4 linked regions of the Homo sapiens genome follow. The protein of the gene in region 1 interacts with the protein of each later gene in a pairwise test. Each region holds a gene or a part of one and is shown in the gene's direction. Other genes may lie near its edges.

Region 1 (3,500 bases):
TAATATAAGTAAAATTAGATATTTTATGTCTGAATTTAAACCTTCTCATTGTTCCAGTAAAAAGAGCAAAATGTCTTTGTGTGGCATATAGCTCTGTTAACTAATAATTAGTGCTGTCTTTGGTAAAATGTTTTAAAATTTAGATAATTTATTTTTCTTCACATTTTTCTTAGTATGGTTCTTCTGTGTCACACAATAGGAAGGAAGTACAGAAATGAATTGTTTTTGTAAACCTCACTTCTTACCAACTATTTGTAGTGTGAATTTCAAGAGAATTGTTGTTTTTCTCGATTAAAGGGGAGAAATGGAAGTAAGTGTGAGGCAACTTAATCTTTAATAACAGAGCTGGAAGTTAGGAATGGATAGCTACAGTAAATGACTTCTTTTTTTAAGTAAAATGCCACACATGAGCATGAATGTTTCAGAAATGCAACACATGAAAAAATAGAAATAACAATGGAGTTAAATAATTAAGGTGACGTATGATAGGCACAGATAAAGGGAATGAGTTAATGTAATGACTAGGGAGGAGCCAGACAATGAATCATAATTAGGAACATCTAGGTTATGCATAGTATCTTTCTCAAATACAATTTAAGGGACTCAGAATTTCATTTTGTTCCAACTTTCTCTCATATGGGTTCTCTGAAAATGATTTTGTTTGTAGGCACATGACCCAAATATTGCATGGGATAAAATTGTTTTTCTGAAATTCATATTTATCTGGGCCTCCTCTGTTTTTATTTTTAAAACAGAGGTGATTTGGTCTTGCCATTTGTTTTTAACTTTAATACCTGTATAATCTAGGACAGCTTTTAAAATTTATTTATTTTACCCTGGCACGTGCAAGAGTTTTTTCAAGACTTACCTTTTTTCCCCCTTGGTAACAGAATCCCTATTGCCAGAATCTTTTACAGTTTTTACCTTGTAGTGCATAAATCAGTTGAATACTCATCTGAAAATTTCCTTTCTTTGATTCTTAAGGCCCAGTTGAAAGTCAGCCTGATGTATTGGAGTAATAAAGTCAGCCTGATATATTGGCATAGCCTTTGGCTGATGAGAGACCTAGTTTGAGGAAAAAAATAATAGATCTTATTTTCTTTTTCTCCAAATTGAGTAGAGGTGATATTTGGAAAAATATATATTGTTAGCTCCATTGGCTCCTTTAGGTCTCAGGCAAAGTCTGTCACCGAGGACCTTTATGAGAGACATGCAGTCTAGTCAGCTATTCTCAACTGTGGTGTTGACACACTGGTGTGACAATCATTTGTGTGATGTGTTGCAAGAGTTAAAATATTTGTGTTGTAAATTATTTACTTTTTAAATAAATGAAAGCATTTGAAGGTTATCTCTATATTGTCATTTTTTCTTGCTTGCATTTGAATAAGGTTCTTTTTTAAGTGGGAGATAAACACAAGTTCAAGTTACAAGTAGCCAGAATTGCTTTGCCTAATTTACTCACGTCCCAGTCCATATTTGTACCTGAATTTTTAGATTACTTCTCTCAATATGTGCATTGTTGCTTCCACTTCATGTTTTAAGACAATTATTCTTAATCAGGAGTGTGTTAGAATTTCTTGGAAGGCTTTTTCAGCAACGTGTATCTGGGCTTTAAAAACTATGAAGATTTCTTTATCTTCTAAACATCTCAAGTGGGGTAAGGACATGTATGTTTTGAAAAAACTACCTAGGTGATTCTGATGTACATCCCCAGTATGAACTCTGTTCTAGGGATTTCTTTGGATCTAAATACTCATTTGGCTATACCAGGATGCATTATCTTCTTAAATTAAGTTGCATTTATTTTAGATTGCAGATTATGTGCTGTATCAGTTATTACCTCCAGTTGCTTTTATGCTTGTTTTTTAAATTTGGCACTGCCATATTAGCATACCATTCATAATTCATTTTTATTATAACTTCATATAATTTTCAACTTTAGTTTTATCATGTGTAAGATGGGATAATAATTTCTATTATTTTTCAAATGGAGATTAAAGTTAAGAGGATCAAATGAGAAATGTATATAAAGGGGTCTTAAAATAATGTTATAATTACAATAATTAGCTTTTTTTTCTGTATACTTGATGCTGGTTGCTAATTCTAGCAATAAAGTGTTTGTTAATAATGTGTCTATTTCCGATAATTTATGATCCATTTAAACATTTCAATGTAATTTTTTTATTTTAAAAGCTCATGCTTTATTAGATAGGCACTATGTTTTAAAATAGCACTCTTTCTTGCCTAAGCGCAAATAAAAACATAGATATATCTTACAAACATTTTGGCTGTATTTTAGAAGTTATTCTGATGTATATTAGCCTTTTAAAATACTATTCAGAATATAGGGGTCAGTCCCAGCTTTGCATAGTGTTGCTTAAAGAAAAATACAGTAATCAATTTGTTTAGAGTCAATTTTGGAGACGTTTTGGTGCTTTTCAAAACTGTGGCGATTTGAGGTTATCTTAGTTAAGAGTACTTATTTTCCCTACAATTTCCTGATTTATGTTTTACCCTCTTGCACTCCATAGATGACTACATTTCAACACATTTTATATTCAGGAAGAATGGCATTGTGCAAAGCACAGTACTGAGGAAGGAGATAACTGGTGCATTGTACTGATGCATTATATAAATGATTTATAGCTGGGAAGTTTTTTAAAAATCATAAACACAGATAAATCAAAATAGGAATGAGTATGAGGAAATACTGAGGTGTAGCAATCCTGGTACCTATAAAGCACTATTTTTTTTTCCTTAGTAGTGGAATCTAATTAAAAAATCTGACTAATCACTTATATGATTATTTAACGTTTGAATAACTTGTATAAACAAAAGACCTTAAGATTTTTTAGTCATTCATTCAATAGATGTTTAATGAATATCTCTGTACAAGGCACTGATGAGTTAAACACAATTTCTGCCTTCAAGTAGCTTGAAGAAATAAAACAAGTAGCTTTATCTCAAGAAGAAATAAGACGGTAAGTTTTCCCTAAATTACAGTTATTTGGAATAATTGCTATACACAGAATACTATGGTAGTTTAAAGGAGGGGAGATTATTTCCAGCTGGGGGAATGTAGAGTATTACAGTATACTGTGTTACTTGGTTGTAATACTCTACATTCCCCCAGCTTGTTAATTTTTACCAATTAAGAGCTTCTGCAGTAGGAAAAATAAATTCCAAGGACTTTAAATACTCAATATTATATGATAACTGATATTTATGTAATTTTTACTATTTAAAAATATTTAATCTTTTCAACAACTACTTTTCTGTTCTTTTTGTAAACAATCTAAAGAAGTGTCATGTAACCAATGAAGTTTTGGGTTTTTTTGTTGTTGTTTTTGTGTTTTGTTTGTTTTTTTTTTTGAGACGGAGTCTCACTCTGTCACCCAGGCTAGAGTGCAGTGGTACAATCTTGGCTCACTGCAGCCTCCACCTCCTGGGTTCAAGCAATTCTCTTGCCTCAGTCTCCCAAGTAGCTGGGATTACAGGTG
Region 2 (3,500 bases), on another chromosome or scaffold:
GCCTTTATTTTGAGCCTATTTGTGTTATTGCATGTGAGATGGGTCTCTTGAAGACAGCATACCAATGGGTCTTGGTTCTTTATCTAGCTTGCCATTCTGTTTTTTTTTTTTTTTTGTTTTGTTTTTTGAGACAGAGTCTTGCTCTGTCTCCCAGGCAGGCTGGAGTGCAGTAGCACAATCTCGGCTCACTGCAACCTCTGCCTCCTAGGTTCAAGTGATTCTCCTGCCTCAGCCTCCCAAGTAGCTGGAATTATAGGCACCCAACACCATGCCTGGCTAATTTTTCTATTTTTTAGTAGAGATGGGTTTTCATCATGTTGGCCAGGCTGGTCTTGAACTCCTGGCCTCAAGTGATTCACCTGCTTCAGCCTCTCAAAGTGCTGGGATTACAGACATGAGCCACCATGCCTGGTCTGTTTGATGACCTTGAGGTTTTGATTGTGGTATAAGGTGGATTCAGCCAACTGGCTTCATTTATGGAATATTTAAGGGGCCAGTGCCCAGCTGCCAACTCCTGGACTCTGCATGCTCTAGCTCTGGGGGACTTGTTTTGGGCCCTGACTTTGTTCTCTGGCTCCTTGAGGTTTGGAATCCACTGCACTGGGGGGCTGAGGTACTGCAGCTACAGCAGAGTGGCTGGCAGATGCAGAGTGCCTGCCTTCCTGTGGGGGTTCACCACAGTGGTGGAGGCAAAGCAGCTGGGGTGGGGATGGGGGGCTCCTGTTGGAGACTGTGTGCAGTTACTCTGGAGGTACTATAGGCATGGGTGGGGTGCTGGTTGGCACAGGTCTAGGTGCCTTTTCTGTGCCCTGCAAGCAGGAGTGATCGCTCAGGGTGGGGGAGGATCCACTGTTCTCTGCTCAGTGTTAGGTCAAAGGCAGGGTTCTGGCGGGTATGGGGCTTGCTGGCTCTGTGTCTGCCAAGGCTTCACCTGCAATGGAAGTCTGTAGGGAAAGGGGAGGCCCACTGGACTCCTGCATGCTGGTGGGGGAAGGAAATCAAAACCCACCTGTGCAGACATCAGCAGAGTGATGTGGGGAGTTGCCTGGGCCCAGGGGAAGCTACAATATGAGGAGGGAGCAGGCAGGCTGGTGTGTGGCCGTCGGGGCTGTCTCACTGGAGCTCTCCACTGGCCAGGCACAGTCTGCTGGCACAGAAGCTATGGTGAAGACCCCCAGGGCACCCAAGACTGCCCTGCAAGCAGGCATGGCCAGGCTGGGGCCCCAGGAGAGGCCAGCAGACGAAGGGGTGCTCAGGTTGGACTGGTCCCATCTGATGGGTAAGACCACCCTGCAGAGAACAGGTCTGACAGTTCCCCTAGGTCCAAAGTCTCCTGTGGGAGCAAATCAAGCCTGGGGGACGGCCGTCCCTGGCTGTGTTCCTGCACCAGACCCTCTGGGTTCTGCTTCAGCTGGCTGCTGCCCCCATCACTTCTCTAAGCAGCTCTCCCTGCCAACTAGAGTGTCCATGGTGGGCAAGGGGTCTCCCCCAGCTGGGGTTCCAGAGGCCCATGGCAACAGTGGGTTGCTCCTTGCCCGTTTAACTCCCCCATTTCCCCAGAGCTGTTGTGGGTCCAAAAATGAGCACCAGTGCTCAGTAGTCCCAGGCAGGTTCCCAGCTTTCTCCCCTTCAGCCCAGCTTCTGTGTGCTCCCTCCATCTGCCCTCAGCACCTTCCCTCTGAAGATGTGTTAGAAGCTCACCAGTCATCTCAGGCCCTCCGTGGGAGCTGTATCATCTGGCTGCATCTGGCCGGCCATCCCGCCCTTCCAATCCACATGAACTTCTTATTTCTGTCTTTGTCCTTATTACTCAGAACTCGGGCCTTGGCCTTGACTTTCATGGGGCCTCCTCCAGGGAAGGTGAGAGAGGGTTTTGGCCGCATCCTGGTCCTCCTGACCAGCTGTGGGAAGGACCAACGGTCCCATCTGCCCAGAGGAGGGAGGTTTGCACAGGCTGGATGCTGTGGAAGAGTCCTTCCTGTTCTTATTTTTGGAAAACAGAAAATTTGAGAAATGGCTCATCTTGTTCGGTGTTTGTGAGCCTATCTCTGTACCAGTGGAGGTATCTCAGCTTCTTGCCAGGGACCGTATCTGGTATCTTGCTACGCTGCACAGCCACTGGGTTCTGCACACCCTGCCTCTTGCTCTCCACCCCACCGCCTCGTGCTCTGCACACACCCCTGCCTCATGCTCTCCACCCCCATCTTGTGCTCTGCACACCTCCCCGCTTTGTGCTCTGCACAACCCCCGCCTCACGCTCTGTGCATCCTCCGCCTCACGCTCTGTGCATCCCCCGCCTCACGCTCTTTGCATCCCCCACCTCACACTCTGTGCATCCCCCGCCTCATGCTCTGCACTCCTGCCTCATGCTCTGTGCATCCCCCGCCTCATGCTCTGCACTCCTGCCTCATGCTCTGTGCACACTCCTGCCTCGTGCTGTGTGTTCTTGATCATGTTTGGATGAGACTTTGTGCAATTATTTTTGGCCTGGCCATGGTTTTTTTTTTTTTTTTTTTTTTTCTGGGGGTTATCTTTGTAGGAATTTGACATCAGAGTTGTGACAAATTTTGAAACCTAATTGAGCATCTTTTAACCTGTTCTACGGTTCCAGCCTCATTTGTATGATGTCGGGATTATGACTTGTTTGGGAACTTGGCACACTCACCCACAGACCATCCAGGCCTGCAGCCCTCTGGGGAATAATCATTTCATAACTTTTAGATTTTCCTTCTTTGTGTATTGGTTCATTTAGGTTTTCTACTTCTTATTGAGTCACTTGAAAGTAATTTTCCAGGCTATCTCCTTTTATTGAAATTTTAATTAATACATAATTGTACATAATATTCTTTTATAATTTGAAAAGTGTCTGGGGTGGGGGGTCTGTGAAGCCTGAGGACTCCAGGCCTCCCACGTGGCAGGAGGCCGGGCACACGCTGATGACTTTGCTTCTTTCGAACTTTTTTTCCTTGGAAAACATTTCAGAGGGAAGATTAGTTGGTTCCTTTGTAGGCACATTTTTTTTTTTTTTTTTGAGATGGATTCTTGCTCTGTCGCCCAGGCTGGATTGCAGTGGCACGATCTTGGCTCACTGCAAGCTCCAGTAGGCACATTTTAAGGTATAATTTTTTGATATGGCTCCGAACACTTTCTCTAATATGTATTTGCTTTATTGCTAGGAGAATACACATGACATGGAGGTAGAATAGAATTTCATAAGCCATAAAGGCATAGATAAGCTAAATTTGGCCAGGGATTGGGGAAATGCCACATGACCTCATCAGCCTGGTTGGGGAATATTCAGTCCTCATGAGGGTGTGGGGCCAGGAGGTGTTGGTGGGCATGGACCCTCCCCCTTGGTGTGGAAAGCAAAGAAAGTGAACACACCTGAGCCCAGCGTCAGACCACAGAGGATGTTCACAGAGCAGGAGGCTCCTCCCCATCCACAAAGGATGTTCACAGAGCAGGAGGCTCCTCCCCATCCACAGAGGATGTTTACAGAG
Region 3 (2,766 bases), on another chromosome or scaffold:
TTAATATACTCAGTAAATCTCCTGAGCTATAGATATATTCTGCTACACTATATGGCTTGAGGGTAATTATCCCTCACCAAATAGTAACTACTTTCTCTGTCTGCTGCTTTGCTTATATGAAGAGTCCAAAATGACTAGGCGATAAAGATTACTTTTGTTTATGCCAAAGAAATAGAGAAGCAAATACTATACTTTTTATTCACATGAAAACTTTAAAAAACCAAAAATTACCTACAGGATTACAACTGATAGAGTGATTAGCTGTCTTTGGGAATGAGTAAGAGCATATAATTGGGAGAGAATGGAATTAATTTCTATTTCCTAACATAGATGTAATGGGGACACAGATGTATTTACAATATAATACTATATCAAGTTGAAAATTAATAATTTGCATTCTTCTCAAATGAATGGTATACCTAGAAAATGTTTTAAACATGTTAGAACTCCATGATGAATCAGGCATCATCTCAACTCATCTAATTCCTTCATTAAAAAGAAATAGAGAGAGAGAGAGAAGACATGCTGCTTACTGTGCTAGTAACCGGGTTGCGACTAGAGCCACAGCACATGCTGGTTGGCCTGAATCTCAAGCATTTATGCCATAGAGAGTCCTACATTCTCATTCTGGAATCGCCACGCTCACAGACAAGTCAGAATGAATGGTCACTCAGGGCATAGATTACTTGATGCTGTCTAAATCCCAGTGGATTTATCTGCATCCACCTGCTCTCGATCTGCTCTGCCACATGGAACACACTGTGACAAACACCCTCTTCCCAAGTGATGTTCAAAGAACTGAAAGACAGGTGGTGTGGGTTGCACAGAGAGATGCCTGCTAGTCTTGAGTCAGAATTTGGTGGGTGACTAGTCTTGGGCCCAGGCATGGATTCATTTTGTCACTGTAAATATATCAGCATCATGCTTCTCCCCACAGACACTTCCCAGTCTACATACAGCCAAACATGAGGCTGGCCAGAGAGAACTTCCTGAGCCTCCCAGATCAACAGGAACTATCACATGACCAGATGATGGTCAGAACAGGAATGATGCTGATGATGAGATTGCCTTCCTTTTATCTGAAACAAAGTGTCTATGAGTAATTCACAATTAAGAAACAGATTAAACCTTAATCTGTTTAACCTTAAGGAAACAACTACCCTTTGAGAATCACAAACGGACTGGGAAAACAATGTAAACGGAAACAAGGAAAAGTCCTGCTGATTGGTGGAAACTTTGGAGGCCAGGTGTATAAAAGGTCCAGATTGCAAGGGGTCATCAGATTCTGGGAAACTCACCTCTGAACAGAAGCCCACCCTCTACCCCTGACACCATGACCCACTGTTGCTCCCCTTGCTGTCAGCCTACATGCTGCAGGACCACCTGCTGCAGGACCACCTGCTGGAAGCCCACCACTGTGACCACCTGCAGCAGCACACCCTGCTGCCAGCCCTCCTGCTGTGTTTCCAGCTGCTGCCAGCCTTGCTGCCGCCCAACTTGCTGTCAAAACACCTGCTGCCAGCCCACCTGTGTGACCAGCTGCTGCCAGCCTTCCTGCTGCAGCACACCCTGCTGCCAGCCCACCTGCTGTGGGTCCAGCTGTGACCAGAGCAGCTCCTGTGCACCTGTGTACTGCAGAAGAACCTGCTACTACCCCACAACTGTCTGCCTGCCTGGTTGCCTAAACCAGAGCTGTGGCTCCAACTGCTGCCAGCCCTGCTGCCGCCCAGCCTGCTGTGAGACCACTTGCTTCCAGCCCACCTGTGTGTCCAGCTGCTGTCAGCCTTTTTGCTGCTGATCAAGTCCCAAGAGAACCACCATCCTCACACAACAACTTTCTGCTCAACTGACTTATCTTTTGGGGGACTAATTTAATTTGCTGCTGACAGCCACCATGCTCTCACCCAAATTTTTATGAATTCTCTACCTGTTTAAAATCTTGGGAATCTACTTGAGGGAGGGCAGAATACTTCATCCTGATTCTCTTTTTCCTTACACTTTGTGGATCATGTGCCAGCTTCGTGTGTTCTCAATTTTGAGTCATGGTCTCAGCTTTGACTCAAAAGTCAAGAGCTTCATTCTCTGCTTCTAAGGAATTTAGGTTTCTGCAACTGATCAATAATCTTTGCAATCATATTTTTGTTTTCAATATCCTCCTCATGGTTCTTGTATCCTTCTTTCTTCTTTTCATAACTTTGGGTTATGTTTCTGCTACCAGCAGAGATTCTTAGCTATATGTTTCTGAATAAACTCTGAACCATCCTCATCTCATATGGTGTTTTGTTTTATATGAAAGCATTCCTGATATGAGATTTACACACATATCACATACCATAGGTATTATCCAATTTGATTCTCAAAACAGATGGTCGTGTGTTATTACCTCCATTTTTTCAGCTGAGAACAATTTAATGTGTGATGTTATGTAGCTAGTAAAGGGCAGACTCTTGTCCAAGCTGAGGTCCTCTCTTTCTGCCCAAGGACACTTACATTTAACTCTCAATATAGTAGAAATGACATTGGAAGTAAGTATTAGCAAGTCATATACTTGAGTTTTTTTAACAATAGGACAAATAATCTCTTATATTTGCAGATAACGTTTTTGTTTACAAAAAATTCCCAATTTCCCACACCTCAGTGAGAAACAGCTGCGTGATATGGCAGCAGGGACTGCATTTAATGGCTGCCCTGAATGCAGGGAGCTCTTTTTGTCTCAGCCTCTGACCAGCCACTCATTCAATTCATCTACATCAAAAAAAGCTTGGG
Region 4 (3,500 bases), on another chromosome or scaffold:
CAATCCCTTTTCAACCTATGTCTGCTTTGTTTTTATTTTTATTTATTTATTTATGGGTTTTTTTTTTTTTTTTTTTTTGAGACAAGAGTTTTGCTGTTGTTGCCCAGGCTAGAGTGCAGTGATGCAATTTTGGCTCACTGCAACCTCCGCCTCCTGGGTCCAAGCAATTCTCCTGCCTCAGCCTCCCAAGTAGCTAGGCATGTGCTACCACACCTGGCTAATTTTTGTATTTTTTTTTTTTTTTAGCAGAGGCGGGGTTTCACCATGTTGGTCAGGCTGGTCTCGAACTCCTGATCTCAAGTGATCCGCCCACTTCGGCCTCCCAAAGTGCTGGGATTACAGGCATGAGCCACCGTGCCCAGCCTGCTTTGTTTTTAGACCTGGTTTCTCTTATGTGTCTTCTGACACAGTGCAGTTACACTAAAGCGGGTTACCCAAAGAATCTACCTGATGAAGAGAGTGAAGCTTGAAGGTCAGAGCAGACCAAGAGAGGCCAGGAGCAGAGCTCTTGTGAGACAGGGACCACGTGGAGGTTATCAGGGCTCTGGGCAAGGATGCTAATAGACCAGAGATGTCAGATGTCAGAATCCCCACCTTGACCAGTGGTTCTTCACCATTAATCCCTATCAGACCCTGATGACAGCCTTGGATTTCCCTCTCTCCTGGAAAATGCAAAGGCTCACACACCAAAAAAGTATTTTGGAGTAGCTTCAAGTTTCATAAACCCCCAGCTTCACCTCTGTGCTTCGCAGCATAGTAATTAAGGTCACACTCTGGATTAAATGGCCTAGGGTGAAATCCTCCTTTACTAGTTAGCTGTGTAACCTTGAGCAAGTTACTTAACTTGGTCTTGGGCCTCCAGTTCCCTCACTTTTAAATGAGGATAATCATAGCATTTGATTGTAGGATTGTTAGAACTAAATGAGTTAATGTATGTGACATTCCTAGCACGTGGTTAACTCTATAGTAGTGTTCACTATATAATAGTATTGCTGCCCTTGCACCTTAGCCCATTTAGTAAATGTTTATGGACAGAATGAATGAATAATTCTAGTTGAGATGCCATGCCTGGGGTAGAGCATTCCAATCAGCGTGTCGCAGTTGGTCTATAGGTTTTTTTGGGTTTTTCGTTTGTTTGTTTTTGAGACGGAGTCTCACTCTGTCGCCCAGGCTGGAGTGCAGTGGTGCAGTCTTGGCTCACTGCAAGCTCCGCCTCCCAGGTTTATGCCATTCTTCTGCCTTAGCCTCCCGAGTAGCTGGAACTACAGGCGCCCTCCACGCCCGGCTAATTTTTTGTATTTTTAGTAGAGACAGGGTTTCACCCTGTTAGTCAGGATGGTCTGGATCTCCTGACCTTGTGATCTGCCCGCCTCAACTTCTCAAAGTGCTGGGATTACAGGTGTGAGCCACCACGCCCAGCCAGTTTTTGTTTTGTTTTTTTCTTTTTTTTTGAGACGGAGTTTCGCTGTTGTTGCCCAGGCTGGAGTGCAATGACACGATCTCGGCTCACCGCAACCTCTGCCTCCCAGGTTCAAGCAATTCTCCTGCCTCAGCCTCCCAAGTAGCTGGGATTACAGGCATGTGCCACCATGCCCAGCTAATTTTGTATTTTTAGTAGAGACGGGGCTTCTCCATGTTAGTCAGGCTGGTCTCGAACTCCTGGATGGTCTATAATTTTGCCAAGATATTGATCCGCTCGCCCCTCAGGGCTGTCAAAGCCCCAGTTGGTCGCTTCTGGCTTGAAGCAGTGACATCTGCAATGTGAACTTCTGACTTTAAGCAGCAGCATCTGCAATGCAATGTACAAATATCTGTCTCTCTAGGTCCCCTGACATGAAAACAGTTTGGGTAGCACCAGTCAAAGATATCGGTTGGTAAGTCGTGAGAATCCAGTAGGCAGTCCAGATTCCAAGTCCAGGAGAATTTTGAGAATGGATGTCAAAGAGAGTCTTCACGACTGCACTGAGTTTAGAGGCCGTGGGCTTCCTGCAGGCTTCACAAGTGTTGGGGTCCACTGCTAGAGCAGGCTGCACACCACAGTGGGTACAGAAGATATCCTGCCAGCAGGAAGCTTCAGTGCTTCCCACCTTGCACATGAGGGACCCAGGGAGTCACTCACAGGATGTGTGGAGAGCCCACAGTGTGAGTTGCTGGAGAAACCACTGTGACGCAGAAACCAGGCTAGAGCCCAAAGCCTTGTGTAGGCAACGGACATTAAACAGATAGTGATGAGTACTGAAGTAGGTTGAGCCCAGAGGTGTGAGTGCTAGGAAAAGGTGGTACCTAGGCTGTGGGAGTTTATAACAACCCAGCCTTGTATGCAAGGTGGACTCTAAGAGCTGTAGGAAACTATGGAAGGGTTTTAGTCAAGGAAGTGGTATGTTTAGATTTGTACTCTTTTTTTCTTATAAATCTACTTTTATTTATTTACTTTTCATTAGCTTAAGTCCTTGAGGGGCACAGCGTCACACAGATTCTGTGTTCAATAGCTTTAGCAAGATTGCTTGGGAATTTAGCACAAACCATGCCACTGTTTCCATGGGCCTGAGTTTACCTTTCCCCAGATTATGCTGGTTTTCTTCAGTTTGCTGCCAGCAGTCAGTGTGTTGTTCTTTGCTTTATACATGTAAGTACATCTCTTGCCTAAATAGAATTAGTTTCATTTCGAGCATAAATACCTTCAATTTTTTTTTTTTTTTTTTTTTTTTTTTGGGACGGAGTCTCGCTCTGTCGCCCAGGCTGGAGTGCAGTGGCGCGATCTTGGCTCATTGCAAGCTCCACCTCCCAGGTTCATGCCATTCTCCTGCCTCAGCCTCCCAAGTAGCTGGGACTACAGGTGCCCACCACCACGCCCGGCTAATTTTTTGTATTTTTAGTAGAGATGGGTTTTCACCATGTTAGCCAGGATGGTCTCAATCTCCTGACCTCGTGATCCACTGTCCTCGGCCTCCCAAAGTGCTGGGATTACAGTCGTGAGCCACCGCACTTGGCCAATACCTCAATTTTAATAAGAGCTGTGTCCTCGCTTTGGTTCTGGAGGCCCCACTTACAGCTAGCAAAAAATGGCCTTGGACTACAGCCTTCCAAATGTATTGTATTTATCTTATTATTATTTTTGAGACAGAGTCTCTTTATCACCCAGGCTGGAATTCAGTGGTATGATCAAAGCTTACTGCAGTTTCAAATTCCTGGGGTCAGGCAGTGCTCCCACCTCAGCCTCTTGTGTAGCTAGGATTGCAGGCATGTGCCACTACACCTGGCTAATTTTTTTTTTTTTGTAGAGACAATGTCTTGCTGTGTTGCCCACATTGGTCTTGAACTCCTAGCCTCAAATAATCCTCCTGCCTCAGCCTCCCAAAGCACTGGGATTACAGGCATGAGCCACTACACCCCGCCCATATTTGCCTTTTGGAAGTCCTGTTCTCAGCAGGCCTCTACAGGCTCCAAGATAGTGGGAAGAGAGCTTTTTTTTTAAATTCACCCTGACAGCATAAACATGA

The links. Proteins that work in one complex are often made in the same cells at the same time.
Region 2: the proteins of REL (region 1) and SPATC1L interact in binary tests that used the Homo sapiens proteins (3 or more experiments, as listed by UniProt).
Region 3: the proteins of REL (region 1) and KRTAP9-4 interact in binary tests that used the Homo sapiens proteins (3 or more experiments, as listed by UniProt).
Region 4: the proteins of REL (region 1) and ZNF76 interact in binary tests that used the Homo sapiens proteins (3 or more experiments, as listed by UniProt).

The regions. Positions count from the first base shown.
Region 1 is NC_000002.12:60,884,574-60,888,073, forward strand, and holds part of REL (proto-oncogene c-Rel), read left to right. Parts: intron 1-3,500. UniProt on the Homo sapiens protein: Proto-oncogene that may play a role in differentiation and lymphopoiesis.
Region 2 is NC_000021.9:46,170,960-46,174,459, reverse strand, and holds part of SPATC1L (speriolin-like protein), read left to right. Parts: intron 1-3,500.
Region 3 is NC_000017.11:41,248,388-41,251,153, forward strand, and holds KRTAP9-4 (keratin-associated protein 9-4), read left to right. Parts: upstream 1-1,299; 5' UTR 1,300-1,333; coding exon 1,334-1,798; 3' UTR 1,799-2,266; downstream 2,267-2,766. UniProt on the Homo sapiens protein: In the hair cortex, hair keratin intermediate filaments are embedded in an interfilamentous matrix, consisting of hair keratin-associated proteins (KRTAP), which are essential for the formation of a rigid and resistant hair shaft through their extensive disulfide bond cross-linking with abundant cysteine residues of hair keratins.
Region 4 is NC_000006.12:35,276,735-35,280,234, forward strand, and holds part of ZNF76 (zinc finger protein 76), read left to right. Parts: intron 1-3,500. UniProt on the Homo sapiens protein: May be involved in transcriptional regulation.